7 separate regions of the Homo sapiens genome follow, and regions 1, 2, 3, 4, 6 and 7 are each linked to region 5. Evidence: fine-mapped QTL for protein levels in blood plasma. Region 5 holds a variant in brackets. A gene starts in each other region. All regions are shown on their forward strands. Distances are between the middles of the regions.

Region 1 (4,000 bases), not on the chromosome of region 5:
AAAAATTAGCTGGGCATGATGGTGCACATCTTTAGTGAAGATCAAGGAAGATCACTTGATCCCAAGAGTTTGAAGCTGCAGAGAGCTATGATCATGTCACTGCACTACAGTGTGGGTGACAGAGAAAGACCTCTTCTCTAAAATAAATAAATAACTAGATAAAAAAGAAAACGAGCTTATAAAATGACGATATAAAGAAAAAACGTTTTTGTACAGTTGTACAATGCGTTTAAAGTGTTATTACGAAAGTCAAAAAGTTTAAAAATTAAGAAGTTTATAAATAAAAAACACAGTAATCTAAGGTTAATTTATTGTTGAGGAAAAAATATTTTTTATAAATTTAGTGTAGCCTAAGTGTGTACAGTGTTTACAAAGCCTAAAGAAGTGTACAGTCATGTCCTAGGCCTTCACATTCACTCACCACTCACACTCCGACTCATCCAGAGCCACTTCCAGTCCTACAAGCTCCATTTGTGGTAACTGCCCTACAGAGGTGTACCATTTTACTCTTTTATACCATAATTTTACTATATCTTTCTACATTTACAGATGTTTAGATACTCAGATATTCACCATTGTGTTACAACTTCCTATGGTATTCAGCACTGTAACATGCTGTACAGGCTTATAGCCTAGGAGCAATAGGCTGTACTATATAGCCTAGGTTTGTAGTAGGCTATACCATTTAGGTTTGTGTAAGCACACCCTGTGATGTTCACACAATGACAAAATCACCTAATGATGCATTTCTCGGAATGTATCCCAATTGTTAAGCAAAACATGACTGTATTTTTGAATATCCTGTATCCAACACAATGGCTGTTGCAGAATGTTTTGTAATTCATATGTGTTTATGAACCTGAAACTTGAAGCCCCTTCTGAGTTAACAGCAGAGAGAATGAAGGGGAGGGATGATTTTGCATATGGATGGGCAACACGCTGGGTTTTTACAGTCTTACACCCAGATTTTAATGTTTGCAGTGTAAAGGAATCCAGGTGGTCCTGAGTGGCAACTGAATCATTCTTTCTCTGCATGTAAACAGAGTAACTCAATACATGCACTCAAAAACAGAAGACATCTGCATCTCGGGAGGTATAAGCATGGTGTCAACACTGTGCCATGTCTCAGGAGCTGGTCTTGTCAAGTTTCAGTGGGAAACCACTAAACATAATGAGTGAGATGCCTGATACCCTATAATTATTATAGTATATACAGTATGCTATTTATGTATCAAGTTGTATTACATGTGTGAATAATACTATGTTATATGTAATGTAATCTCTTCATTAGAGAAAGAAGAGTTGAGGAAAGCACTGTGGTGTGGTGGTTAAGAGCACAATTTGAAATTCCCACTCTGTTACCTACTTAGTTATCTGAAAGTGGGCAAGTATTTTAAACTCTATAAACTTGATTTTTCTCTTCTGTAACACTGGGGAGGATAATAATAATCATAAGAAATAATTACTAACATTTATGTGTGGCTTATTTATGACACACATTATTTTAAATACCTTAAATTTATTAACTTTTTTAATCCTTCCATAAACTCTATGAGGGAGGCAATATTATCCCCATTTTAGGGATGAAGAACCTAAGGTACAGAGAAATTAAGCAACATGACCTGATATACACAGCTAACAAGTGGCAGAGCCAGGTTACCTCATTATTCAAACTCCAGAGGATGTTCTTTTAACCAGATCATATCTATCTTTTAAAAAATTGTTTAGTTCATGCATGGAAAACACTTAGTATTCCTGGCATATTAAAATGATTAATAAATTGGAACTGTTATCATACTACATTAAGAATGACACCGATCATCAATTTAGTAACTTTTGTTGTTCAAACTGTGAAATACCAAGTATACAAAAAAGAGAGGAAAATTAAAGCTTTTTTTCCCCAACAATCCTGTTAAAATTAATAATAGATGACAACAAGTCAATAGCAAATTTTTATTTCATGTGAATATTTTTGTAAGAATAGTGTGGGTATAAGTTTTAGGGTTTAAAAAATGAATGAAAGTTCTGTTGATGAAAAAAGTAGAATTTAGAATTAGGAGTCTAGTAAGGTTGAAGTCCTATATTGTACTTATTTATAAGGCTCATTCTAATGATAGAATTATAACTATGTAGATATGTTAATTCATTTTCATCATCTATTTTTGTTCTACTAGTGGCAAATATATTCACTTTAAACCAGCTAACCACAGTTTATAAGATTCATATTCACCAATTTATTATTTTAGTGTTTGATGGCTAAAATAAACATCAGAATAAACTTTCAGGGAGTATTTTAAATAAGACATCCTAGGACTAAGACACTGAGAGACTCCATTAAGTTCCTAAATATATTAACAAAAATGTATTGAGCAAATATTCTCTGTTGGGCTCCATGTAATTCCTATTATCATTGACCATTATGAAATCTAATAATACCCATGAGTATGTCTAATAACCATAAAGTAGACCAGGAAAAATCAACCAAGTTGTGTTAGAATAGAAATTTTTAAAGAAAAAAATGCAAAGTACAGTCCAATGTTTAGGCAAGAATTAGAGGGTTGAAACCAGGCTTATTTATTTTCATCTTCTTTCTGCCATCTTTTAACCAACCTTCTCAGAATAAAATGTGATTTTTGAGACAGAATGAAACACATATCCAAATTTTAATACAGTAAGAATAGGTATCCTGAATAAATGAGAACTCTAGAAAATCAAGGTTTCAAAATTCTACCCTTCCTGGGAGTTAAAGAAGTTTGGCAGAAACAGAACAAATTAATCAGCAGATTCATCACCTGCCAATTTTTTCTGTACAATTTTCTTGATTCTGGGAGCATCTGGGTCCAGGCAGATTTTCCTCCCATCCTTCAGTGTGGCTCTGCAAAAGAGAACAGGGTTATCTGTGGGTGTCCTGATCTGAATATCAGAACTAATCCATGAGACTGGAGGAAACGAGTGCATATGTGGATGGAGGTAGAGGGTTTCTCTGATAAGGCAATAGCACAGAAACAGCAACTTACATCACTTCGACTTGGTTGCAATGGGTTCCTTTCCCGATCACTTCCAAACTTTGGATGTTTTTGGGATGAATTCCAGAGGTTGTCTTTATACACATGCAGCGGAGTTCAGCATACAAGTCACTGTCTAGACTTTCCTCTAGGGTAGAAAATGTGACCTATTGGTGGTCATGAATATTTTCCTCAGGTCTCTTATTTGCAGATTGAGGGCAATTGTACCTCTCTCATAAAGCCATTGTGAATATGATCTGTAACGCTTTAGTAAAGTGCCCAGAAGATTGCCCAGCACACAAGAAGTGAGAAGTGACCCCCCTGTGTGTCTCCTCCAATTGGAGTTATTGGTATAATGGCCCTCTCCAGCCCCAAAGGCACCAAGCTAGTCTTTACCCCAGAGACAGGTGTAGCAGAAGCAGCAACAAGTGCAGAGAAGCAGGGCCTCTACCTTTGCCTTTCGCCAAGTTTCTCTTAGTTTGTCCTTTGGTGGAGGAAGCCAGAGCAGTCAGCAGCAATGACAGAAGCAGCAGCACCTGCAAGGCATGAAGTGGTCTCGCACTGTTACAGGAAGGGGTGGTATCAAGTCTGAGGCTCATGGTGGAGAAGGCTGAGCTAGAGTTGTTTCCAGAACCAGAAGACCTCTGAGTGAGGGTGAGTTGCTGCCTACAAGTCTGCAGATAAGTGGCTTCTCATGCCCTGAAGATGTCATTTATATGCTCTTTCTCAAAGCCAGTAAGAAGGAAGAGGTAGGAAAGGAGGAAGTGAGGGTATGTGGTGATACACACATAAGCATTTGAAGCTGTGCCCAACCCAGAGAAAGACCAGACAGGTCAAATTCCTACTAACTTGCTTAATGTGCATCACTTCACATTCCCACTCTCCCTTTCTCAATACTTATCTTCCTTACACCTGTGTAAGAACTCCGTTCAGGAAGGTAAGAACTAGACTGAAATACTACATGCATTTTCTTTGTATGATTTATAACAATACGC
Region 2 (4,067 bases), not on the chromosome of region 5:
TTATTCGGGAAAGGTGCTCCAAATAGGAGGAATATTTGGAAGAAATCCCAATAGGGATTTGGAGACATGCCATTTGGGAATGCAAACCCAGCCCCTCCTAGTGCTCCACCCTGCCCATGTCCCCATTGAACCGACAACCTGCAGAGAGAGCAGGATGCCCACAGCAAGCCCCAAGGACAAAGGCCACAGAGTCAGGGCACCCAAATCCTAACCTAACCTTGCCTGTGCTTCCTGTGTACTGTGGCCATTTTACTTTCCCCCTGTTCCCTCCTCTGTAAATGAGGCCCTTGGACTGCATCAGTGGTTTTTACACTGAGCTCCCTGGAGCTCTGGGGGCCTCAGGGACTATTGTGGAGGCCTTGCTGCATTTGAGAGTGGTGTCTTGTACCCTACTCAACCCATTTTTTCTGTTTTACATATTGGGCCTCTGTGGAAGATATTGCTTGAAGAAAAGGTTTTGTGGTCTAAAAAGTTTTAAAAATCACTGGATTGGGTGATTTTTTCATCTATTTTCTGATTGAGAAGTTTCATGGCTTTTATAGGAGAAGCAAGGTGACAGCAGCCACCCCAAGCTTGAATTATAGAGGTAGCAGGAAGGACATTGTAGGCCAAGAGCCCTGTACAAACAGGCACATGTTGTGGTTATGGAGTGGAGAAATCAGGTGTGTGCATGTTATGTGACCCTGCTTCATAGAATCATGGATGTGCATCACAATGGCCTCAGAGGTCACTGAGGGTGGCCAGATGTCTGGGTGGAAGGGTCTCATCCTGTTTTCCAGCTCCATTCCAGGCAGCATCCTCACGATCCAAAGAACGGCATAAGGGGCCCCTGTTTCCTGAGACCCAGTCAGAGCTCCTATACTCTCCCACCTTGTTCCTCTGAGCTGACAAATGACATCGGAGAGGGCAAGTCAAACTGTGCACATACCCACCAACTTTAGCTGTATTTTAACAACCTTCGGTTTCCCCCCAGTTTCTGAAAAGGAGAGTAGGTAAAATGGAAGAGTGATAAATAGTTTTGGTTATCTCTAAAGGCAGCTTATTCTAAGAAATCAGCTGAGAAAAGGGGGCCTAGGATGGACCCCACACTGTCGTGTTTCCCCCCAGCCCATACCCAAGCAATGCTGCACTCACTGGGCACAGGTGACGCTGGAAGCAGGCTGGGCCCAAACCTCAGGAGGCCAATAGAAAAATGCCCTTGAGGGGCTCAAGACACTGCTCCTAATCTCCCTGAGGAAATATACCCCAAATGGGGTGGGCCACTCTTTTGCTTAGCGGCAAAGAGAGAGAAATTGAGGGAGTAGAGAGGCAGGCTGGTCTCACTCCATGTCCTTGAGGGCAAGGGGGGACTGGTCCTGGGGGGCAATGATAAGAGATCAAGGCCATGTGAGGCCTGGAGATTCAGGATCTGTTTATTTGGAGACTAGAGGGCATTTGGGGTAGTGGAATGAAGCCTGGAGTCTCCCAAGTCAAGTCTCATTGGTCAAGGCTGGAAGATCCCAACTTAAACTCTTAAGCAGAACCTACAGTCCTAAGTCTCATCTCCATCCTGCTCACCACACCATGGGGTGAAGTGCTGTGGTGCTCAGTAGATAATTCATTTATATAATGTTGCTATACACACAATTTCAAGAAGATACCAGCCCTCCTTTCTGAGTCCCTGCTCCTGGTCTTCCCCTGAGCCCCAACCTCACTCCTGCTTATTTCCCTGCAGGCTCTAGGTTGGAAGGAAGACAAGGCATTGCACTCACGTGAGGAGGATTCAGTCTTGGTCCCTAGGGCGATGGTGATGAGGAGGAAGAAGGGAATGGCAGCCACGGAGATCTTCATGCTGTGGGAAGCTGTTGTGGGAGGAGAGCTGGCCTGGTGGGAGCTTCAGAGGCTCCTGCGGTGAGGAATTGTTGAGAAATGATCATTGAGGCCAAATATTTTTTAAAATAAGGGAGCTGAGACTTGGAAGGGAAGTAGGAAAGCAGTGATGCCTCAGCAATTTCATATCCTGCACATGTGTTGTTGGTGGCCTGAAGGAAGCAGGGAGAGCCAAGGTTTAAGGGAGGAAATGGTCTTCCATCCCCAGTGGGAAGAAGTTCAACTCTTTTGATAGAAGCCTTTCCCTAGGCATGAACATGAGCACAGGGCTGGGGGCACTGTGTCACACTTAGCAAAAGATCTCAAGGCTGGATGTGTCCTGTATCCAATTCCATCTCAGGCCTTAGAACAGGCCACGTGGGGCCTGGACATTCAGGATCTGTTCATCTAGAGACTAGAGGGTGTTTGGGGTAATGGAATGAGGCCAGGACTCCTCCAAGTCAGGTCTCATTGGTCAAGGGAAATCCTAACTTAAACTCGAAGCAGAACCTGCAGTTCTCTGTCTCATCTCCATTCTGGTCACCACACCATGGAGTGAAGAAGTGCTGTGGTGCTCAGTAGATAATTCACTTATATAATGGTTGCTATACACACAAGCCACTGTCCCAGTTGCCTTATGAATATTAGCCTATTTAATCTTTAGAACAGCAGTTGAGGAAACAGGCTCAGAATCAAAGCCTAAGCTTTTGACAGTTGGTAAATGGAACTGGGGTTCAAATTCAGGTGGTTTGGCTTCCAAGTCTGTGTTCTCACCCATTATGCCATAAAGAAACATGGGACTCCCAACGGAGCTCTGTAAAAGCTTATGGGTTTTCTATAAAGCCTTTAGTCTTAGTCCTTTCTGAAATCAGATAGTGGATCTCTTTGGGACCTTCTCCTGGTTTCTCTGACTTTTGCTGCAAAGAAGCTTGGTGGGAACCCTAGAAAATGTCTAATTCAGGGATAGCTAGTAGGTTTCATTGATTAGTGGTGGACTGGAGCTCTGTGTTGGAAATGATTCTGAGGCCATATCCAGGCACATTGGGAAGATACGCTGTGACCAACGTGCAGTTTCTGTTGCAGTGCAGCTTGCATGCTATGTATCTGCCATTTGATTTGTCTAAACTGGCCATTTACTGAATGGAAGCTGGGAATCAGAAAGGACCAGTGACTTTCTCATGTGCACACAGTGATTTGGATGCAGGACAGATCTCATCTCCGCAGGCTCTCAGCTTAGTGCCCTCACCATGCTGTTCTTGGAGGTACATCCCCCATTCTGCTTGCTGATGTGGTTAGATGGTTATTTAATCTCCTCTCCTCATCTGAATCATCAGGATGGAGAACATCTATTATTTATCTTTGCCCATTCACGCAGAACCTAGTGTATACCAGGTGCTTTATGAATATACATTTTAAAAGAAGGATGAATAAACAAATTGAGCCAGGTCTACATATGTGTATCTTATAGGAAATGGCTGAAATCTCATGGTTAGTTGTGGAGACAGTCATCAATTAAAAATTTTCTATATTTCTTATCATCAATAACAACATTATGTAAACCCTTCAAGTTAAATGATAATAATTGTTATCAGGAACAATCTCAGGAAACAAGTTGTTTATAGGAAAAGTGAGTTGGAAAGAAATAATGCTTACTTCTTGTTTTTGTGGAAACTAGCCAACCTGCCAAGTTGTTTCTAGGAGACTTACAGGAAGTTCCTGTACTTTTCCAGCAAGTATTGAGTTCCTACCTACATTAGTCTGTGTGTGCCAACTGCTATCATAAACAATCCAGCAGACTAATTAAATAAAAGTTTATTTCTTGCTCATGTTACAGTCCAGTGTGGGTCAGTAGTGGGATGATGGTGTGTGTGTTGGGATCCTCCATGTACTCATTCAGGAACCAGGCCTTTTTCTACCTTGGATGCCACCATTTTCAGCACAAGGCCTCCAAGCTTGATACAAAAAGGGAGAAGCAGAGGAGGATTGGGAGATTTTTGTGGATCAGTTCTGAAAATGGTACAAATTACTTTCACCCACATTCCATGGCCAGCATCAAGTAACCTGGCTCCAACATAATGACAAAGGGATGGAAAATATACATCATCTGTATGCTTAGGAAGAAAAAGGAATAGGTTTTGTGACCACATCACTTCTTTGACACAGTATCATATGCCAAGTCCTGGGCTAGGCTTGGAGGGAGGGATTGAAGATGACCCTGA
Region 3 (4,065 bases), not on the chromosome of region 5:
GATCTGCCCACCTCAGCCTCCCAAAGTGCTGGGATTACAGGCGTGAGCCACCACGCCCGGCCTATTTTATTTTTTTTGAAACAGTTTCTCTCTTGTCACCCAGGCTGGAGTGCAGTGGCGCGATCTCTACTCCTGCAAACTCCGCCTCCCGGGTTCAAGCGATTCTCCTGCCTCAGCCTCCGGAGTAACTGGGCTTACAGGCCTGCGCCACCTCACCTGGCTGATTCTTTCATTGTAATAGAACAGCTTTGTTGGGATATAATTCACACGGCACATACAGTTGACTCTTGAACAACACGGATTTGAACTCTGTGGGCCCACTCATAGGCAGCCTTTTGCCAACCAAAGGAGGATAGAAAATACAAAACTCGGTGATGCAAAAGCTGCATAAATTCAGGGGAAATTGTATGCCAAAATCCTGGCACCAATCCCCTGTGGTTACTGGGGGATAACTGTAATTCACTCTTTTTTTTCTCTTTTGTTAGGGATGAAGTCTCTCTGTGTTACCCAGGCTGGAGTGCAGTGGTGCGATCATACCTCACTGCAGCCTTGAACTCCTGGGCTCAAGCGATCGTCTAAACCTCCCCACCATGTACAACTCCACCAATTTAAAGGCTATAATTATAATTCAATGGTTTTTAGTATAGTCATAGATTATGCAACCATCACCACAATCAATTTTAGGATATTTTCATCACCCCAGAAAGGAACCCTGCACTCAACATGTCATTTAATTGTTAGCCACATTTTCAAGGTTATTCATCATAGCTGATGATTCCTGAGCTCTTACTTCACTGTGAGTTTATTAAAAGTGGGGATTGGCTGGGTCCAGTGACTCACACTTGTAATCCCAGCATTTTGGGAGGCTGAGGCGGGCAAATCACATGAGCTCAGAAGTTTAAGACCAGCCTGGCCAACCATGGTGAAATTCTACTAATAACACAAAAATTAGCTGAGCATGGTGGCATGTGCCTGTAATTCCAGCTACTTGGGAGGCTGAGGCAGGAAAATTGCTTGAACCCGGGAGGGGGAGGTTGCAGTGAGCCAAGATCGTGCCATTGCACTCTAGCCTGGGCAACAAGAAAGAAACTCCGTCTCAAAAAGAGAAAAAAAAAGTCAGGTTCTACCTGAAGCTCAGAGTCACACTTGTTAGTGTGCAGAGGTGGGGTTTCCAGGTTCCCATCCCAAGGCTCATCCTGGGGGTCTGCCCAGCACCCATCCTGTTGCATGACTGATGGGGCCCCAGAAAGTACGTCCGAGAAATACTCACATCACAGCCCGCTGGGAGCAGCTGTTACTGGTGAATTCATAGCTTCGCACCCAGGTCCAGGGAAGGGGCTTGTGGCTGTATTGGAAGCAGCAGGTCTTGGATATGTCACTCCCACCTAAAAATCAGGGAGAGGAAGGGTTTGGAGATACTCATTTCCATCCACTCCCAGGCGGTCCGGGAAGGAACCCCAGGAGGGGAATGGGCCAGCTACGTACGTGTGGCAGTTCCAAGGTGGAGACTCAGGAGGGAGGCCAGGAGCACAGCAGAGGCCAAGGAGAGGCCCATCATGATGCTGCAAATCAGGCCCTTCTCAGGTTTCTCCCAAACTCCTCCTGCCTGATCCCCTTTTATGAGACTGAGACGGCCCTGAAAACAATTCCAGAGAATTCTGTGGTTGGGAACAGAAGCAGCACTTTTGACCCAACAAAGGAAAAGTAAACTAATACTCATAGGAATGAAATTAGACAGTGAAGAAAGATAATCTGGCACTGGGCGTGGTGGCTCATGCCTGTGATCACAGCACTCTGGGAGACCGAGGTGGGCGGATCCCTTGAGGTCAGGAGTTCAAGATCAGCCTGGCCAACATGGAGAAACCCTGTCTCTACTAAAAACACAAAAATTGGCCGGGCATGGTGGCAGGCAACTGTAATCCCAGCTACTCCTGAGGGTGAGGCAGGAGAATCACTTGAACCTGGGAGGTGGAGGTTGCAGTGAGCTGAGATGGCACCACTGCACTGCAGCCTGGGCGACAGAGTGAGACTCTGCCAAAAAAAAAAAAAACAAACAAACAAACAACAAAAAAAAACAAGTGACAGATGGTAGAGATCCCTTTATTGAATTCCATCAACAGGGACAAAAAAAGAAGAGAATTTGGGAGAAGAGCAGGGGCAGGCAGGCCCCAGGGAGTCTGGTTCCCAGTGCTGTTGGCTGAGTCAACACTTTCTTGTTTAAAAAGAAAAAGCAGAGGAAATTAAGTAATATTCCAGTGAACTGAACTAAGTTACTTTATAGCACAATTGGTTGTTGAAGATAGGTTTCTGGCTCTTGGGCAAAGTTTTGTTTCCTTTCTAAGCATTGCTTATCTCTGTGTGGAGCTCTGGATGGTCTCAAGATGTGATCATAGAGTAGCCCAACCTCGACAATGGATATTTAAAAACAGGGTCCAGGCAGGTGCCAGCCCATCTTCTTGGGGCCACACCTGTAGGGCCAGGGCTGGCTGGGGGCATTTGAGAGATCTAACAGATCCCAAACCTGACAGATCATCACAATCACCCGAGGCTTAAAACAAAACAAAACAAACAAACAACAACAAATAATATATATATATAGTGAGAGAGAGGGCCTGGTCAACATGGTGAAACCCCGTCCCCACTAGAAATAAAAAAATTAGCCAGGCACGGTGGCGGGCACCTGTAATCCCAGCTACTAGGGAGGCTGAGGCAGGAGAATCGCTTGAATGCAGGAGGCAGAGGTTACAGTGAGCCGAGATCCCGCCATTGCACTCCAGCCTGGGCGACAGACCAAGACTGTCTCAAAAAAGAAAAAAAAATAGAGATGAGGTCTCTCTATGTGGCCCAGGTTGGTCTTAAACTCTTGGCTCAAGTGACTGTCTCACCTTGGCCTTCAAAAATGTTGGGATTACAGTGAGCCACCACGTCTGGCCATACCTGGTCAATTATTATTATTATTTTGTGTGTGTGTGTGGGGCCAGTCACAGTGGCTCACGCCTGTAATCCCAGCACTTTGGAAGGCAGAGGCAGGGGGATCGTCTGAGGTCAGGAGGTTGAGATCAGCCTGGCGAACATGGTGAAACCCCGTCTCTACTAAAAATACAAAAATTAGCCGGGCTAATTTTGTGGTGGCTCATGCTTGTAATCCGAGCAACTTGGGAGGCTGAGGCAGGAGAGTCACTTGAACCTGGGGGGCAGAGGTTGCAGTGAGCCAAGATCGTGCCATTGCACTCCAGCCTAAGAAAAAAGAGCAAAACTCTGTCACAAAAAAAAAGAAATTTGTAGAGCCCAAAGGTTGCCAGGCTGGTCTCAAACTCCTGGCTTCAAGGCGATCTGCTTACTCCAGCCTCCCAAAGCACTGGGATTATAGGGGAGAGCCACCACACCTGGCTTCAGCCAAATTTTTAAAAGAACTTAACAGAAGTTTGTGATAGTCAGAGCTGTTGTAGGTGGGAAGAGGATAGATGGTGAGTTGCCTGTCACTCAAACCAGGCACAACAGTCTGGATGATCATGAGAGGGTGGTTTGTTTTTGTTTTTGTTTTTATTGAGATGGAGTTTTGCTCCTGTTGCATACGCTGGAGTGCTATGGCACAATCTCGGCTCACTGCAACCTCTGCCTCCCAGGCTCAAGCAATTCTCGTGACTCAGCCTCCCAAGTAGCTGGGATTACAGGCATGCGCCATCACGCCCGGCTAATTTTGTATTTTTAGTAGAGATGGTGTTTCACCATGTTGGTCAGTCTTGTCTCGAACTCCTGACCTCAAGTGATCCACCTGCCTCAGCCTCCCAAAGTGCTGGGATTACAGGCATAAACCGCCATGCCCAGCTGTTTGTTTGTTTTTTTGAGACAGAGTCTTGCTCTGTCATCCAGGCTGGAGTACAGTGGCACAATCTTAGCTCACTGCAGCCTCCACCTCCTGGGTTCGAATGATTCTTCTGCCTCAGCCTCTGAGTAGCTAGGATTACAGGCATGCACCACCATGCCCGGGTAATTTTTGTATTTTTAGTAGAGACAGGGTTTCACTATGTTGCCCAGGCTGGTCTCGAATTCCTGACCTCAACT
Region 4 (4,075 bases), not on the chromosome of region 5:
CACAGATAGAATGGGGACTGCTGGCAGTGCCTCAGGTTATTGGTGGGGGTAAGAAAGGGCATTTCTCTCTGCCACTGTGGGGGTGAGGGATTCACACTTGTTAGATGCCTCCCTCCACCTGCCATGTGCCAGGTCTTCGTTTACTCCTCACAATGGAAGGAGGAAGGTAGAATTATTTCCATTTTACAGGGGAAGAGACCTGGCCCTGAATGGTTAAGTGTCCCAGGGGTTACAGACCCAGTTAGGGACCTGCCCTCAGGTTTGCTACCCAGGACTGGGTGTGGGGAGGGCGGGGCAACCCGCTGGGAGCTGCTGAGTGTGGGGCACAACCCAGCTTGGGGAGTGGACCTGCAAAGTGGGGACGGGGCTGGTGGCAGAGGCAGAGCTGAGAAGGGAGACCAAAGCGAGAGGCCACAAGGGCCTCGGAGGGGAGTATACAGGTCGGGGAGGGGGACACAGCTGGAGGTGGAGCTGAGGGCAGAAACTCAGCCCCGGGAGGGGGCTGGAATCACTTTCACCTTCTTGCCTGCAATACCGTCAGAATAAAGTGGTACTCCATCAGGGGCCCGATACAGACCCAAAAATGTAAACTATCTAGATAATTTCGCATTAGCCCTCCCCGGGCCGGGCTACAGGCTGGAGAGTTTTGGCCGCCCAGCAGGCTGGCAGGCGGGGGCAGAAGAATTGCGGGCGGGGGGCGGGACAAAGTATGTGCCTGTCCGACCTGTCGGGATTAGCCTGTCTGTCGGAGCCAAGCCAGGTGCTGGGGCCGTGCCCCCCCTCCAAAAGCAAGGGCAGCGGAGGATGGCTTCTTCACCCCTCCATCACCCCCGCAAGCGCGCACATTCTTCTTCCCTCCCCCACCATCCCGCAGAGGCCCCAACAGGTGCCGAGGGAGACGCGGACCTGAGGTTCCCCTGGCTGGCCCTCAAGAGCCAAGAGAGCTGTCCACGTCTGAGAGGCCAGTTTCACAAGAAAACTCCTGCCCCCAAGCACACTCACTCCAAGTCTGTCCCGGCCCTCCAGGGAGTCCCGGGCGAACATAGCCCCCACCTCTCCCCAACTAAGCGATACCATCGGTTCCTGAGCGCCAGACCCCGAGGGCCAGGGAGCCGCGCCACTTCGCTGCGCACCGGGGGCCGCAGCGCATGCCGCCTGCCACGTCGAACCCAGGCCCAGGCTGCGGACTGGGGTGGGGGTCACCAGAGACCGTGGGACTTGGGGGAATCCGAGCCAATGAGCCCCAGGATCAAGAACTTCTGGATTGGAGGCGGGGTATAAACAGGGCTGGTGGACTTGGGGAATTCAGGACTGCGAGTGAGGATGATCACCCGGGGCTGCGGGATGGAGGGGAGTTCGAGGGGAAGAGGCTGCCTGCTGGATTGAGGGCCGACGGGGGCGGCAGACTTGCAGGAAGGGTGCAGGAGGTGCCCTGTCCTGATCGCCGACCGGAGAGCGATCAGACTCCCCTTCCTTTCTGTCTCCCCCCACGCACCCAGCTAGAACCAGCCCCGACGGGAGGGCCCGCCGCGCCCCAGCTCCCGGGGAAGGGGGCGCTGGGGAGAAGGATGGGGCAGCTACGAGGGGACTCACCTTCGTGCTGCCAGTCGCGACGGGGGCAGGCCCGGGAGGGGCGAGGGCGCGGCCCGCTCACCCGCCCGCTGCGGGACTGTCCTGGGCGCCCGGCTCGCCTGCGCTCCGCCCGCCCGTTCCCAAGTTGCTCAATCTGCGGACGGCTCACGCCCTCGGGGCCAGCGCCCCACCCGGCGCATCGGTCCTCCGGGGCGGCTCGGAGCTGCCCTCGTTCTCCGCAGCACCCGAGCGGATGCCCTACTCTGGCCGGTCGCTCCGGGCTCTCTGCCCTGCGCTGGTGCTCTCCGTCGCGCCTCCGCTCGGCCGGAGCTCCCAGCCCGGAGAGGGGCCAGTCCTCTGCGAGCACCAGGGAGGGAATCCCCCCCTTCGCAGTCCCCCCCGCGAGCCGGCCCCCCTTCCAGGGATCCGCAAGAAAAAATGGACTGGAGCGCCGGCCCGGGAGTCCACACGTCCTTGCCCGAAGCTGGCGCTCTGCGCTCCGAGCGCGGGGCTGGCGGAGGGACAAGTCCCCAGGACCCTGGGGCAGACCTTCTGCTTTTGTCCCCTGCCCCTCCCCGCGCCCCGGGGATTCCACGCAGCCAGAGAACCCGCAACAACTCCGCTCATCTTGGCGTCAGAACGCGGCCGGAGACCCTCATGAAAACCCCAGTTTCCCCATCAGGAACCTGGAAAGTGACAAGGAACAGGCTCCACAGAGCCTGGTGGTCTTGACCACACCCTCTCCCCCTTCAGGGTCAAATCTTCTGTGCATCTTCCCAGTTCAGAAGAAATACCAAGGCTATCAGATCCTGGGCACCGAGGTGAGGACACCTCCAGAGGCAGCTGGTAGGTGAGAGTGAGGGAGATCATACAATAACACTTAGATTCATGTCTGGCTCTATCACTTACCAGCTGTGTGGTCATGCCTAGGTTACTGAACCTCTCTGAATCGCAAGGCTTCATCTGTTCTGAGGGTTCAATGAAATGAAGGCTACAAACTTCTGGTTAATGGTGGGAACCCCATACATGTTTGTGGAATGAGTCTTGAACGGCTACAGACACCTGCAGTGACCCAGATGATGTTGAAGTCAAGCCCGAAGAAGGGAGGGAAGGAGACTCACTTCTTAGAGTGACAAACAGCTGTTCTCCAGCTTCACTTCAGATTGGGAAAGGAAAATGGGCTAAAACTGTAGTTAGTGGGAGTTAAGCTAGAGCAGAAAAGATGTACTGATTGTGTGTGTGTATAGGGGGGGTGAGTAATCAAGACAGGCTGTGGAATCTCCCTCTTAGGAGAGAAGGGGGGAGCCCTGACTATTGAGTTAAGGGCACAGGGTCGTTTACAATGACAGGAGGATGGATGTAATGACCCCTAGAGTGTCCCAATGGCCAGGGAACAGGGATGGTGGATAGCCAGAGAAAGTGGAGCAGTTGGGTCCGAAATGCCCAGTGTCTGGGTTCATTCAGCCAGAGCATTGCCAAGTTTGCAGGAGGCAAACAGTCATTTCCGAGTTGGTCCAGGGGCCCCCTCCAACCTCCAACCCCCACTCAAGTCCCTCCTCTCTCACCTCTGCCCTGAGCCTTCCCTGCGTCTAACCGGCCCTTGGCTATGCTCTGTGTCTAATCAAACAGCCCCAAATGCCGAAAACTCAATGTTTATTTTATTTTATTTTTTTACACACTTGCATAACTCTCTGACAAGCCACGCCAGGCATTGGGCTTTTTGTTTGGTTTTATTTTGTTGCATTTAGGAAAAAAAAGAGGGAGAGAGAGAGAAAAGAGAAGAAATAACACAAACCACACAGCCCTAGAAGCTGTCCTAGGCCAGGCAGTGGGCTCGGGTTTCCTGCCTGAGGAAAAGTCTGTGGAAGTTGGGGGGCCTCGTTACTAGGCTCAGGAATGAGTGAGAAAGGGAAGAAAGCCACCTGGGTGACAGAAGATAACGAATTAGAACCATGTGACAATAATGGGTGAATAAGAAAGAATGTTTCTTGTGCACCTAATGTATGCCAAGCACTGTGTTTTGCACATATATTCTGTTACCTAATTTCGCAACTATTGTAGTTCCTTTCTTTTTTCCTTTTTTCCCATAAATGTAAATTCTGATCCTCAGAGACGCCAAGTCAATTGCTCAGAGACACACAGCCTGCAAGTGGCCAGCCCAGTTCAGGTTATGCCAAATGAGTTGTTTCCCTGGGAAAGCTGTGTTGCTCTAAATTTGCATATGCTGTTCATTCTGCTTAGAAATGTCTTTTTCTCGGCCAGGCGCAGTGGCTCACGCCTGTAATCCCAGCACTTTGGGAGGCTGAGGCAGTCGGATCACGAGGTCAGGAGATCGAGACCATCCTGGCTAACACGGTGAAACCCCGTCTCTACTAAAATTGCAAAAAATTAGCTGGGTGTGGTGGCGGGTGCCTGTAGTCCCAGCTATCGGGGAGGCTGAGGCAGGAGAATGGCATGAACCCGGGAGGCAGAGCTTGCAGCGAGCCGAGATCACGCCACTGCA
Region 5 (4,075 bases):
GCTGCATCTGTGCTATGATAGGGAGCTGAGCAGAGGTGCCCGGCTGCAAGAGAGACGGTATAGCCTGCAAAGCCAAAAACAGTTATTATGTGGCCCTCTACGTGAAAAGCCTGCTGACCCCAGCTGTAGGGACTGATCAGATTCAAGTCAATTTTCTCTTTTTGTAAGAATATTTTGTAGAGGTGCCGTAGAGGGTGGTGAAATCAGTAGACGGTAGCTGACTGTCTCTTTTTGTGGTGTTAGCAAGCTACTTATGATGACCGCCTAAGTGCACTGTTTTATTAAGAGTTACCAAATGTGGGTGCTGTTATAATTCTAACTTTCCTCCCTCACTTATTAATTAGAATATTTATATAAAAAGAAGTTTTCCATAATCAACTACTTGGTTGCCCTGAGGTTTATTTTGTGTTACAAGGGCAGGACAAATTCTTCATTCATTTCCCATATCCAACAGTTTTCAAAATAATTCAAAATAGGTTGATTGACCAGAGGGTTCTATTTTCTGTATCACTATAAACTCGTGTTTTTCAACATACTTTAAGGGTCTCGATCCACTGCAAATTTATTCTTATTGGTGCTCAAAATGAGCCTCTTCACACTCGTTCTTAAACCTTCTGATACAACCCTACAGTCTTGTTAGCCTCCTTGCTTTCCGGTTTGACTAGATGTTTAGGCTCATTTTATACATCTTCTGTTCCAGATGGAATCAGCCACTTCTCCAGGGAGCTCTGGTTCCTTTTAGTGAGAAACAGTAGCACTGAGCACCCTTATCTAATAAACCCTAAATGTTTTAAACTGTGGAAATGCTGAGCAACAGTGATAAGGAAAATCCAAAGTCCATTTACACCACTCTCTGGAATATATCCAAATACTGAAATTCAAATTATGAGAGCCAGACTGGTGACTGTTTCACACCGATGGCTCAAACATCACTGGAAAATCAAATTATGAAAGACCAGCTGCTGACACTGAACGGGTTTGCCTCCCATGGCCATCTAGACCGAGGGAGGCTCGCTGGATGATGACAAGATAAAGGAGTCTGCTGGGCATTAAAAGCTGGGCTGGGAGAATCAAAGTGGATTGCCCTCGTGTGACAGCAGCGAGCCTCCTGAATCAAGCCCAGCCTAAAAATGGAATCCTAACAGTGCAGATGCCAGCGACAAACAACCGACACACAGCACGGCAAGGTGAGTCCCCGGATTTATCTCAGCCTCTCCCCTCCCCGCCCCTCAGTGAAAGCTGACACCTTCTCAGGCACTGGGAAAGTCTCGCCATCCTTCTAGTCTCTGTGTTGCTAGGATCCTGGTTCTTGGAACCTAAGGCCCCTTATTAATCTACAGGGGCTACAGCAGGTAGAGAAAAACAGCAGGTATGTTTTGTCCGAATCATGACATCTCTCAACAGCTTTTCCTGCCAGGGCTTCCCAAAGAAATAAATGTACAGGCCGGGCACGGTGGCTCAAGCCCGTAACCCCAGCACTTTGGAAGGCCGAGGTGGGCAGAGTGCTTGAGGCCAGGAGTTCGAAACCAGCCTGGCCAACATGGCTTAACCCTGTCTCTATTAGAAATACAAAAATCAGCTGGGTGTGGTAGCACATGCCTATAATCCCAGCTACTCCAGAGGCTGAGGTGTGGGAATCGCTTGAACCCAGGAGGTGGAGGCTGCAGTGAGCCGAGATTGTGCTACTGCACTCCAGCCCAGGTGACAGAGTGAGACTCTGTCTCAAAAAAAAAACAACAACAAAACAAATGTACAGGCAAGGTTTGTGGCTGCCAAACTGAGACTTCTGAATGGCCTTAAGTAAAATCGTGCTGTCCAGCATTCAGACCAAACATTTCTCATCAGTACTTTGCCAACACTCAACGGTGTTTGGCAAGAGGCATTCTAGAAACTCTTCAGGAGGTGAGCCATGGAGATTAAGGCTGTCTCTGTAAGATGACAGTAATTGTTAATGTACAAGTAATCGGGGTTAAGCCTCACATATGGTCTCTGTCTCTCAAATCTGTATAAGCATTACTGAAATAATGTCCACCAAGACCTGTATTCATTTTCCAAACATCTACCACATTTTCTTATGATACCAAATCAGGTGAACAAGCAAACTAAAGTACATCTTGGTTATCCTTGGGAAGTGTACTAAGTACTAGCAAAATGACTCAGCATCTTTAAAATTTAGAGAACAAACA[G/A]GAAATGCCAACTTATCAAGGGGACAGCAGCTTGGTAGTTTTAAAATGTGTTTTTCAGGTTAGTGGAGAAAGACTTAGAGACATCTGAATTTTTTCTTAAATTTTTGTCTGCCTTCAAAGTGTATGCTCATTCTATGACACTAATTAATTTGGCCAAAAAGGAACCTAAAAATGTTTAGGAAATACCTTTTCAGCCGCTGAAAAGTATGGCAGCAACATCCAAATGGTCCCTTCAATGAAAAGACACATATTTTATTATAAAGTACACTCTGACATCAAGTGCCTTTTATCCATATATTATCCATTCTGAAATCTCTTTGGGTTGATGGGAAAAGGCTAGGGGGAAGGAGGGGATTAGAGCTTTGTTAGCAGTCTGTCTTTTAAAATTCAAGATTACAGGATATTCATTCTATTTTCCTCTAAGTTTCCGGGAAAATTCACCTAAAGTTCAAATTCCAATCCTACTACCCATTAACCAAGAGATCCAAGGCAAGTCACAATCTTCATCCGTCTTAGCTTTGTCCTCTGCCATATTAGAAATCATATCTCAAGGGTGGCCATGGAAATTCAATAGGTGCAAACTGAAAGACATAGTAACCAGCCTAATACCTGGCTCAGAGCAAGTGTTCAGTAAATGCTGGCTCTCTTCTTCTGGTCCTCTTCAATGCTCAAGACCTGAAATACTCTGATTTGTATTTCAGCAACCATTTAGAAAGTCTCAAGGATCAAGCTAAGAAAACAGTCAAACACTGCTACCTTGATAAAGCCTTGTCTGTATCTTTATAACTTCCTTAGACTATTTAAGACTCAGAAATAAATTAAGACAATGCTGGTGCGTTTTGCCGTCTCTGTAAGAGAACTGAGGGGTCCATTACTGTGGGAATGGAGGGGGAGGGGTGAGTATGTCCCAGAAAACCTTTAATAGTGCTGAGATATGTTTTTCGGTCTGCTGACTCAGATCATTAAATCTGGTTTACCTATGTATCAAGTCCTATAGACTTTTCTTTTTGATATGTCTTTAAGACGTAATGGTCCAAATGGCTGATTTCCTAATCCAGCAACCAAGAGGTGACCCAAGACATTATAGTGACATTGACCAATGGTTCTCAATCTTTAAAAACAAGGAAGTACCTTTTTAATTTCTCTCTTCAGCAAGAGACATGGAAGTACCTTTTTTAGACATAAAAAATATTACACATAGTTCATGACCATGTTTTTAGTATTGGTAAAAATACATAAAATACAACCATGAATTCTTAAACATGTCAATAAAATCCAAATTCTTTTTATCAGTACCTAGATACATTTTAAGAAATCATATTTTGAGATATTATTTATCAATCTATAATCAAAACTGGGCCATGAACATGATTTCTCTGATCCTTTAGAATAACCCTGATATGCCTATGGGCCTCCAATTCAGAGACGAGAAACTAACACTCTCTGGATTCTTGCCAATTAAAAAATGAGTGTCAAGTGTTAGAAATGTAAATTGATTTTTTAAAAATCTTTTTTAAAGGCAATCCCTAGTACGCATAAATAATCTTAATAATGTATCTATCTATTGGAACAGTAATACCCCTTCTATCAATCAATCCTAATGTGATAATAAAAAAGATTCAGGTCCAAAAATGTTTACTATTATTTTCAGTAGCAAAAGTATTGCAATATTCTCTGCAATAAATAATTGCAATAGCAATTATAATTGCAAATTAAATCTCCAATGGAGGGGACACTGTGGGTGACCTTTTACCAGCTTTGTGCACTTATCTCCTAGTTTTTATCTGCTTTGTTGCTAATGGTTTATACCTGTTACCTCGGTCAATTACTAGTGGGAGTTGAAGGCCACTTTCTTGGTTGGCCCTAAGTGGTTGAGAGTTCACAAACAC
Region 6 (4,075 bases), not on the chromosome of region 5:
GAGTGGTGTACAATCTTTTGATATTCTCTGGAAGAGATTGCACAAGATTGAAATGACCACTTCCTTCAGTGCTTGGAGGAATTAGCTGTTTGTGCCCTTTGAGCCCAGAGAATGTTTTGTGGGAAGATTTTCAATTCCTGATTCCATTTCTTTAATAGCTTTAGAATGACTTTCTATTTTTTATTTATTTGTGCACCCTGGTCAGTTAGATTTTTAAGAAATTCATCCATTTCCTCTAAACTAAATTTTTGGCATAAGGTTCTTATCATTTTCTTTTTGGTGTCTGCAGGCTCTGCAACTGGTTATATGTACCTTTTTCCTTTTTTCTTTTCTTTTTTTTTTTTTCTGGGACAGAGTCCTACTCTGTCACTCAGACTGGGGTGCAGTGGTGCAATCTTGGCTCACTGTAACCTCGGCCTCCCAGGTTCAAGCAATTCTCCTGCCTCAGCCTCCCAAGTAGCTGGGATTACAGGCATGTGCCACCATGCCTGGGTAATTTTTGTATTTTTTTTAGTAAAGACAGGGTTTTACCATGTTGTCCAGGCTGCTCTAGAACTCTTGACCTCAAGTGATCCCCCCGCCTCAGCCCCTTTTTTCTTTTTTTTTTCATTTTCAGTTCAGGAGAGTTTTAGCTTAATTATAGGCTACAGAACCAGCTTTGGGCTTCATCTATCCTTTCTAATATTTACTGTTTCCTATTTCTCTAATCCTAGCTCTTTATTTCTTCCCTTTACTTTCACTGGGCTTATTTTGCTATAGTGGAATGCAGAGGGATGAGTATTCCAGGAAGGCACAAAAACTGTGCCAAGTCTTGGAGCTAGGGATGAGTGGGAAAGGGACATGTTCAACCATTTTAAGCCATTCCCTCCCCACCTCCCAGCTCCCAGATATGTGCCCCTCGCAGGAGGAGCCCAGGAATGGGCCAAACACCTCACTTCTTTGCTCTGAGGGCCACCCCAGCCCTCCCATCAACAGCTCTAGAAACCCAATGGTCCTTCCTGGAAACACGGGGCCTGCATCAATCAGAGGTGTTTGAACCATGTCCCTCTGGGCCTGAGGGGCAGAAGGGGACACAATATGTAATGTAAGGAGCCCCTGTCATCAGAAATCTGACTTAATCTGTTTCAGATATTAGACTTCCACATAAAAGTTGACTTGGAAAAAGACTTCTGCTGCTAAACAAAAGTTGAAACTGCCTTGGTGATAAAATATAAGCAGACCAGCTTTCTCTTCTAGCTTTCCCTCTCATTTCCCATAAGATTTTGGTCAAGTTATTTAATCTCTCTGCATCCGTTTCCTCTTCTATGAAATGGGCATGATAATAATGGTATGTACCTCCTCAAACTAAATATATAACGTGAACAGAGTCCTTAGCACAGCACTCTTTCTCTACAGGAGTTAATTTTCATTGTTTTTCTCTTTCCTGTTGGAGAAAGTAAGAAGAAAACAGCTCCTTTATGGCTTCCCATGGTGAATGGCTGGGGCGCGTCTGTGTCCCTTTCTCCTCTCTGGCTCCTTGTGGCCTGAACAGCCAGAAGGAAGCCATGCCATGCTGTTTCAGCCCTCAGCTTCCCTCTTGCATTTCCTAGAAAAGTCTTTGGTGCCCAGCTCCAGCTCAGCAGATTCAGGATCCCCCTTCATCATGACTTGGTCAACGCCCTGCTCAGGCCAAGGTCCTCTGAGAGTTCCAAGCTTCTCCACTCCCTATAAAAGGCCGGCGGAACAGCCAGAGGAGCAGAGAGGCAAAGAAACATTGTGAAATCTCCAACTCTTAACCTTCAACATGAAAGTCTCTGCAGTGCTTCTGTGCCTGCTGCTCATGACAGCAGCTTTCAACCCCCAGGGACTTGCTCAGCCAGGTAAGTCACCTCCCTTCGACTCTCCCTCTCTTTCCCTCTGTTTCTCTATTCAAGGAAGACCTAAGCCCGAGTGCTCCTCCACTTTTTTTTTAGATTGAGTCTCATTATGTTGCCCAGGCTGAAGTGCAGGGGTGCGATCTTGGCTCATTGCAACCTTCACCTCCCAGGTTCAAGCGATTCTCTTGCCTCAGCCTTCTGAGTAGCTGTGATTACAGGCACCCGCCATCACGTGCAGCTAATTTTTGTATTTTTAGTAGAGAAGGGGTTTCACTATGTTGGCCAGGCTGGTCTCAAACTCTTGACCTCAAGTGATCCTCCCGTCTCGGCCTCCCAAAGTGCTGGGATTACAGGCGTGAGCCACCAGGCCCAGCCAAGTGCCCCACTTCTAAGCCCACCAGAATAGTAAGGCTCCTCAGAGGTTCACTTTAACATCTAATTTTAAAGATAGAAAGCTGAAGCCCATGTTGGAGGCAGAAGGGACCCTAGCCATCCACCTCCAGGTTATTGCAGAGCAAGAATGAAACCTAAGCTTCTGACTCCAGATTTAGGGCCTTTTCTTTGACCTCATCTGATCGTCCCAAACTCTGCAGATCTGGGACCACACCCAGGACCTTTCCCACTGGCCTTGCCCGTGGCCTCCCCTAGATGGCTGTGACATGTCTCCACCATGCAGCTGAGCCTTTGAGATCCTGAGGCACATGTCACAGGTCCCACCTCACCTCAGGGTCTAGGGTGGGAGTGCTGGGCTTGGGGGTGAGTAAGATCTATTTCTTCCTCTTTGCTTTGCATCCCATACAGATGCTCCCTGCTGTATTCAAGCTGAGAAAAGCCTAACACATCCTCAAAGTCTTTTTCTTTGTAACTATTTCTAGATGCACTCAACGTCCCATCTACTTGCTGCTTCACATTTAGCAGTAAGAAGATCTCCTTGCAGAGGCTGAAGAGCTATGTGATCACCACCAGCAGGTGTCCCCAGAAGGCTGTCATGTGGGTAGAAAAATCCCTGCTCACCTGGCTCCTCCCCACTCCCACATTCCCCAATCCAAAGTTCTGCCCCAGGAGACAGACGTCAGACTGACTTGAGATCTTAGGATGAGATCTAGCCAGACTGTGTGATGCAAATCCTCCAATTTTGGCTGCACAACAGGTCCAAAGAGGACCTATAATTTCCCACACCTTGTTTCCTGGATGGGCACCAGCCCACACCCTTTAGCAGATGCCAGGATCAGTTTCCCAGGGGCAGCAAGAGCAGTGGCTGCCTCCAGAGACCCCTTCTGTCCACACACCTCCTACTTCCTGTCCTGGAGGGGTGCCCCTTCACCTGTAGTAGGTGGACCAGGCAGGTTTAGAACCCAGTGTGTCATCTCCTGGGTAAACCCTCAAAGGGTTCCATCTAACTGTGCCAGATCTCCTTCCTCCACAGCTTCAGAACCAAACTGGGCAAGGAGATCTGTGCTGACCCAAAGGAGAAGTGGGTCCAGAATTATATGAAACACCTGGGCCGGAAAGCTCACACCCTGAAGACTTGAACTCTGCTACCCCTACTGAAATCAAGCTGGAGTACGTGAAATGACTTTTCCATTCTCCTCTGGCCTCCTCTTCTATGCTTTGGAATACTTCTACCATAATTTTCAAATAGGATGCATTCGGTTTTGTGATTCAAAATGTACTATGTGTTAAGTAATATTGGCTATTATTTGACTTGTTGCTGGTTTGGAGTTTATTTGAGTATTGCTGATCTTTTCTAAAGCAAGGCCTTGAGCAAGTAGGTTGCTGTCTCTAAGCCCCCTTCCCTTCCACTATGAGCTGCTGGCAGTGGGTTTGTATTCGGTTCCCAGGGGTTGAGAGCATGCCTGTGGGAGTCATGGACATGAAGGGATGCTGCAATGTAGGAAGGAGAGCTCTTTGTGAATGTGAGGTGTTGCTAAATATGTTATTGTGGAAAGATGAATGCAATAGTAGGACTGCTGACATTTTGCAGAAAATACATTTTATTTAAAATCTCCTACACAGTGGTGTTTTCTTCAGGAGTAACTGCCAACCAGTAGGGGCTCTCAGAGGTGTGGGTGGATGGCATGCCAGTGGAAGGCAGATGTACAGAGGCCCTGGCCATGGGGCTAGCCTGGCTCATCTGAGTTTCAAGGAGGGCCTGCCTCACCAGCCCAGGCTGTTCTGGAACAATGGCTCCAGTCCCCAGCATGGGCGCTCCTGGCTCG
Region 7 (4,065 bases), 110 Mb before region 5:
TACGGCAAGACAAGGCGCGGAAAACATTTTTACCATCTGACGCTGTAGTCTGTCCTTTAGAAGAGAATAGGTGAAAAGTTTAATAAAGAAATTAAGCGATGTGGAAGTCGTTCCCGCTGCTTGCAGAGGGTGGGGAGGCGGGCCTGGGCAATTTCGGAACTAGGAGAGACCACGTCGGCAAAGCCTGTGGTCCCGAACAAGGGCCATGGATTTCCCATTTCTCAGATCCCGGCTGCCCGACTTCATTCTTGTTTCTTTCAGCACAAGCCATCCTCCCTTCTCCCTCCCTCCACGTCTCTTGGCAGAGACAGAAAGGGACACCGCTCTGCCCGCGTCCAGCGCGAAGGAGGTGACCTAAAACCCATGGGCCCTTCTCACACTGCGTTCTCTGCGCTCCGGCCCAGTTCCGGGAGGACCTCCCGACGGCGCGGGAGAAGGCTGTAAGGGCTCTTGGCCCCCGACGCGGCCTGGGTCTCGGGGGACGCATGAACCCGCCACCTCTGGCCGGCTTCCTTTTAGTGCCCCAAATAGCAGCGCTTAGCCCGTTGCTTCCCCCGACTCTTGTTTTTCAAAGTGTTCACAGGGTCGCGAGAGCGAGCGACGCGGGGGCGGCGAGGCTGCAAGGCTGCACAGGAACAGACGACAAGAAATAGGGCTTTCTTCTGCGTGGTTCTTTTCCGGTCCCTGTCTGAGTCGCCCGACCCCGCGGGGAGCGCGGAGCATTGCGGCGTGCGGCGGGCTTCGGGCTCTCAGCCCGCGCAGCAAGTTGTGTTGCTTTTCCCCGGGTGCGACGCGGGACGGCCGCGAAGAGCAAAGTTCGTCCGCGGTAGGAACTTCGAGGCCCGGTTAGGACCGATCTCCGGCCTCCGAGTCTACTTAGCCGTGTCCACGCTCGTGCCTTTTCCCTCTTGCAGCGAAATAACTGGGCGGGGCCCGACGCGCGTCCTCCAGCGACTCCGGGAACCCAAGGCCTCCTTCACCTCGCTCAAAATTCACCCGAAAATGCGCTGAGACTTTGGCATGGGGCTGCGCTGTGTCCCACTGACGTTACAGAAGCGCTTATGAATTTAAAAACTGCTCCAGGCGGCCGGACGGCGGGACAACGCCTCCTCACTTGCTCCTCTACGGCAAGGCCCCTTCCTTCTCCCTGCCGGCTGCGGTGGTGTGTAGGGTGGTCCCTTTACAGAGTTTCCTTAATCCATCTAGCCTGACCTCACCTGCGGGATGTTCCATTTCCCGATCCACCTCCCACACCCCCGCTGCAGTTGTCTAGAAGCTGGGGCTGGGGAACTGAGGCGCGGGAGGAGCAGACAGGAGGGCCGGGGTTGGGGCGCCAGCCACGCGTTGGGAGAGCAGACCCGGGTGCAGACTCAGAGGACTGGAGAGGCGGCATGGAGTTTGGTCTCCTGGGAGGTAGAGTGAGGTGCTGCGGACTCCAGGGAGGAAAGGGATGGGTGGGGAGGCGGGAGGGGAGGAGGGACGGGGTATTTTGCGCTCCCGCACCGCGGCCCGAACTCAGCTGTTCTGCCTTCACTGGCCTCAGCCAGTCGAGGGAGCTCCTACGAGGTTATCTGCGAGCCCAGCAAATCTTGGGGGTCCTAGCCAAATGCAGTGCGCAACGTTCTCTCTCACTTGGAGGCCGCCATTCACCTCGTTTTTTTTTTTCCTAAAAGGATTTTTTTTTCTGAGTGCTTTTTTCATTTCCCTATTTTACCTGCTTTGCACATGCCTCCCGCCCTCACCCGGGAGGCGGCGAAGACGCCCACTGGGACCGCGCCTGGCCGTTTTCTGGGCGCGTCCTGCCCCCACGGCCTCTGTCTCTTAGGGCGACTGGGCGCGGAAGAAAAGCTGGAGAGCCCCTGCGGGGTGGCAGGAGGAGGGTGCCTGAGTCCCGCGAGAGGCCCGGGCGAGGAAGATGCGCAGCCTGCTGATCCGCGTCCCGCCCGGCGCCAGGGACCCTCAGAGGGAGGAGAGCTCAAAGACCTCGCCCCGCGCCTTCGCGAGGACCAACCCAGTCCCCGCGCCTGCCCCAGAGCGGCTTAGAAACTCAGGGCACAGTGAGAGCGCAGGGCGCCTCCCGAGGCTTCACACCGCCGGCCGGGCCAGCGGAGGCTGTGACCGGAGCGCCCCCTCTGTGCCGCGCACGCCGCGGCCGCCGCCGGGTTGGGGTAGGTGAGCGGGAGGCTAGGGTACACTTCGGGGTGGGGGATGGGCGCGCACATGGCCGCCAGCAGGCAGAGTTACTCCGGTAAACACGCCAGGGACGGCGGCGCGCGCGGGAGGCAACCCAGCGGGGCAACCCCCGCCTTTACCTGTCCGAGCCTGCACGCGCCGGCGGCCGCGGCGCCGAGGGGGGCGGAGCTTGCCAGCCCGCGCGCCGGGGCGGGACCTAGCGGGGGCGGGGTCCGCAGTGATTGGGCGTAGGAGCGGGGCCGCCAGCCAGAGCTGGGCTGCAGGGCCGCGCAGGTTTCACTTCGCTCCGCGCAGCCGCCTGGTCTGCAGTTTGTTGGAGCTCTGCGTCCAGCGCCGCTGCCGCTGCCGCCGCCGCCGCCGCCGCCGCCGCCGCCGCCGCCGCCGCCACTACCACCACTTGATTCTTGCAGCCACCCTGCGAACCCTGCCACACTGCGATCGCATCATCGCGGTATTCGGTTCGCTGCGTTCCCGCCGCCACCGCCTCGGCGCCCTTTCTTGGCCCTTGTTCCCCCAAATGTCTGACTCTGACTCTCGGACTGAGAAACGCAAGGTAAATACCTCCAAATCCCGGGGCGCGGGCCTGGCACCGAAGGAAGACTAGCGCTGGAGCCCGAACGGCACCACCTACTGCCCGCTTCCCGTGCACGTGCGAGCGGAGACGCTTGCATCGGCGCCGCTTGTCGCCGGCGGGAGGTGGGGATCCGTGTGGATCGGGTTCCCTCTCGGGCAGGTTCTCTTTAAAGAAAAGTCGTTCACGCGGAACCTGCAGGCTCTTGGCCGAAGTGCGGCTTGGGACGGGATGCTGCGCGCGGGCCTGGTGAAGGGTCGTAGGTCCGGGCAGGAGGAGAGGCAGCGCGTGCCTTTCGGCGCCGGCCCGGGAGCTGAGGACCTGCTCGTAGTATCGGGCTGTGCGCCCAGCTGGAAAGTCTCGCCGCCGGCTCCGGCGCCCTCAGAGTAGCGGCCGCGCAGTGTGAGGGTGTTTCGTGTCTTGGTTTTTTGGGGCGCGTGGGCCTGTTGCGGAGGATTTGCGGAACTGCGGTGGTGATTTAACTGACGAGACACGGCTTTTCCTTTTACTCATTCAGGCCAAGGTTTCGGGGCCACTGCTGCGTTCGCTTTCTCAAGCGTACCTGGGGCCCCTGCTTGCTCTGCAGGAGTCCTGCGGCCTGTGCCATCCGCACGATTCCCTGGCAGCGAGAAATCTAGGTCCTCCCCTGACCACCTGGACCGCGCAGGGGACTAGTCGCGGCCGGCAGAACCTGCTCGGTCCCTGGGCCGGGCTATCTTAGCGGCTCACGCATGCCCGAGCACACCCGACCCGGTTCGCGGTGCAGGCTGGCGGCGCCGTGCCCTCTGGGACCTGTTGCCCCAGGGTTGGCGCTGCTGGTGGAGGGCCCGACGGACGCCAGGGCGGAGGGTGTGAATTTACTCGATGGTCGCGGACGTGCGCGTCCGCGGCCAGGGGTGGCTCTTCGGCTTTGACTCGTGTCTGCGGCGCACCAGGAGAGAGAGGAAGTTGTTGGAGGAGAATAGTTGCCACAGCCAGGGCGGTGACGGCCGTTAGGGTCTGCCCCCGACGGGCCAAAACAAGGACAAGTGGCGAGGACTGGGCCTGGGGATGGCCCTGCGGGTCCGGGCGCGGCGCAAGTCCTGCTTTGTCTCCAGGTGACTGGCTGTCCAGGACGGCGGGAGCTGCTAAGGCTTGTGTCCGGAAGGAGCACAGGGATGGGCAGGGTGGCCGGGCCAGCCGGCCCTCAAATCCTCCGACGAAGCGGCAGCCGCCACGACCACGGCCAGAGCAGCGCTCGGAGGCGAGTTTGTCAACAATCGCCTCGCCTTTGGCGGCCTGACCCGTAGGCGCCGCCCCCA

Direction of the effects. Alleles are on the strand shown, and positions count from the first base shown. The strength of an association depends on the size of the effect and on how common the allele is.
For the plasma level of the protein whose gene starts at base 3,691 in region 1, G is the high allele of the variant in region 5 and A is the other (weak association).
As copies of A replace G in region 5, the plasma level of the protein whose gene starts at base 1,910 in region 2 goes down (weak association).
As copies of A replace G in region 5, the plasma level of the protein whose gene starts at base 1,593 in region 3 goes down (weak association).
For the plasma level of the protein whose gene starts at base 1,920 in region 4, A is the low allele of the variant in region 5 and G is the other (weak association).
With allele G in place of A in region 5, the plasma level of the protein whose gene starts at base 1,737 in region 6 is higher (weak association).
As copies of A replace G in region 5, the plasma level of the protein whose gene starts at base 2,472 in region 7 goes down (weak association).

What was found. A credible set is the group of variants that fine-mapping cannot tell apart. PIP is the posterior inclusion probability: the model's chance that the variant is causal. Protein levels are from antibody-based Olink assays in UK Biobank. Linkage for the fine-mapping came from a reference panel and not from the study's own genotypes, which makes the PIPs less certain.
Region 1: PPBP starts here. The variant in region 5 is the best candidate, but not a certain one, in a credible set for the plasma level of the PPBP protein (UK Biobank, PIP 0.82).
Region 2: CCL14 starts here. The variant in region 5 is the best candidate, but not a certain one, in a credible set for the plasma level of the CCL14 protein (UK Biobank, PIP 0.64).
Region 3: it holds the start of CCL26, and the variant in region 5 is the best candidate, but not a certain one, in a credible set for the plasma level of the CCL26 protein (UK Biobank, PIP 0.72).
Region 4: RSPO1 starts here. The variant in region 5 is the best candidate, but not a certain one, in a credible set for the plasma level of the RSPO1 protein (UK Biobank, PIP 0.84).
Region 6: it holds the start of CCL13, and the variant in region 5 is the best candidate, but not a certain one, in a credible set for the plasma level of the CCL13 protein (UK Biobank, PIP 0.77).
Region 7: BCL2L11 starts here. The variant in region 5 is the best candidate, but not a certain one, in a credible set for the plasma level of the BCL2L11 protein (UK Biobank, PIP 0.67).

What each region holds. Positions count from the first base shown.
Region 1 is chr4:73,984,500-73,988,499 of GRCh38, forward strand. It overlaps PPBP (pro-platelet basic protein), which reads right to left and starts at 3,691. Exons shown (of 3, transcript NM_002704.3): 1 at 3,457-3,691; 2 at 3,018-3,153; 3 at 1,940-2,875. The coding sequence starts at 3,604. The coding sequence ends at 2,773. RefSeq lists enhancers at 344-857, 858-1,370.
Region 2 is chr17:35,984,820-35,988,886 of GRCh38, forward strand. CCL14 (C-C motif chemokine ligand 14) reads right to left here and starts at 1,910. Exons shown (of 3, transcript NM_032963.4): 1 at 1,752-1,910. The coding sequence starts at 1,830. It overlaps CCL15-CCL14 (CCL15-CCL14 readthrough (NMD candidate)), which reads right to left. Exons shown (of 7, transcript NR_027922.3): 5 at 1,752-1,885.
Region 3 is chr7:75,770,619-75,774,683 of GRCh38, forward strand. It overlaps CCL26 (C-C motif chemokine ligand 26), which reads right to left and starts at 1,593. Exons shown (of 3, transcript NM_001371938.1): 1 at 1,486-1,593; 2 at 1,271-1,385. The coding sequence starts at 1,558. RefSeq lists a silencer at 2,113-2,407.
Region 4 is chr1:37,632,973-37,637,047 of GRCh38, forward strand. It overlaps RSPO1 (R-spondin 1), which reads right to left and starts at 1,920. Exons shown (of 7, transcript NM_001242908.2): 1 at 1,594-1,920. RefSeq lists enhancers at 211-738, 1,267-1,794, 1,795-2,321.
Region 5 is chr2:224,007,971-224,012,045 of GRCh38, forward strand. The region is part of intron 1 of SERPINE2 (serpin family E member 2); the gene reads right to left. LOC124907990 (a long non-coding RNA gene) reads left to right here and starts at 907. Exons shown (of 2, transcript XR_007088102.1): 1 at 907-1,187. RefSeq lists enhancers at 1,328-2,527, 1,452-2,027. The variant G/A (reference allele first, on the strand shown) is at 2,187.
Region 6 is chr17:34,354,744-34,358,818 of GRCh38, forward strand. It overlaps CCL13 (C-C motif chemokine ligand 13), which reads left to right and starts at 1,737. Exons shown (of 3, transcript NM_005408.3): 1 at 1,737-1,859; 2 at 2,732-2,846; 3 at 3,283-3,867. The coding sequence starts at 1,784. The coding sequence ends at 3,388.
Region 7 is chr2:111,118,443-111,122,507 of GRCh38, forward strand. It overlaps BCL2L11 (BCL2 like 11), which reads left to right and starts at 2,472. Exons shown (of 4, transcript NM_138621.5): 1 at 2,472-2,746. ACOXL (acyl-CoA oxidase like) reads left to right here. Exons shown (of 18, transcript NM_001142807.4): 18 at 1-106. RefSeq lists enhancers at 1,677-1,756, 2,907-3,026 and silencers at 2,037-2,576, 2,910-3,204, 3,997-4,065.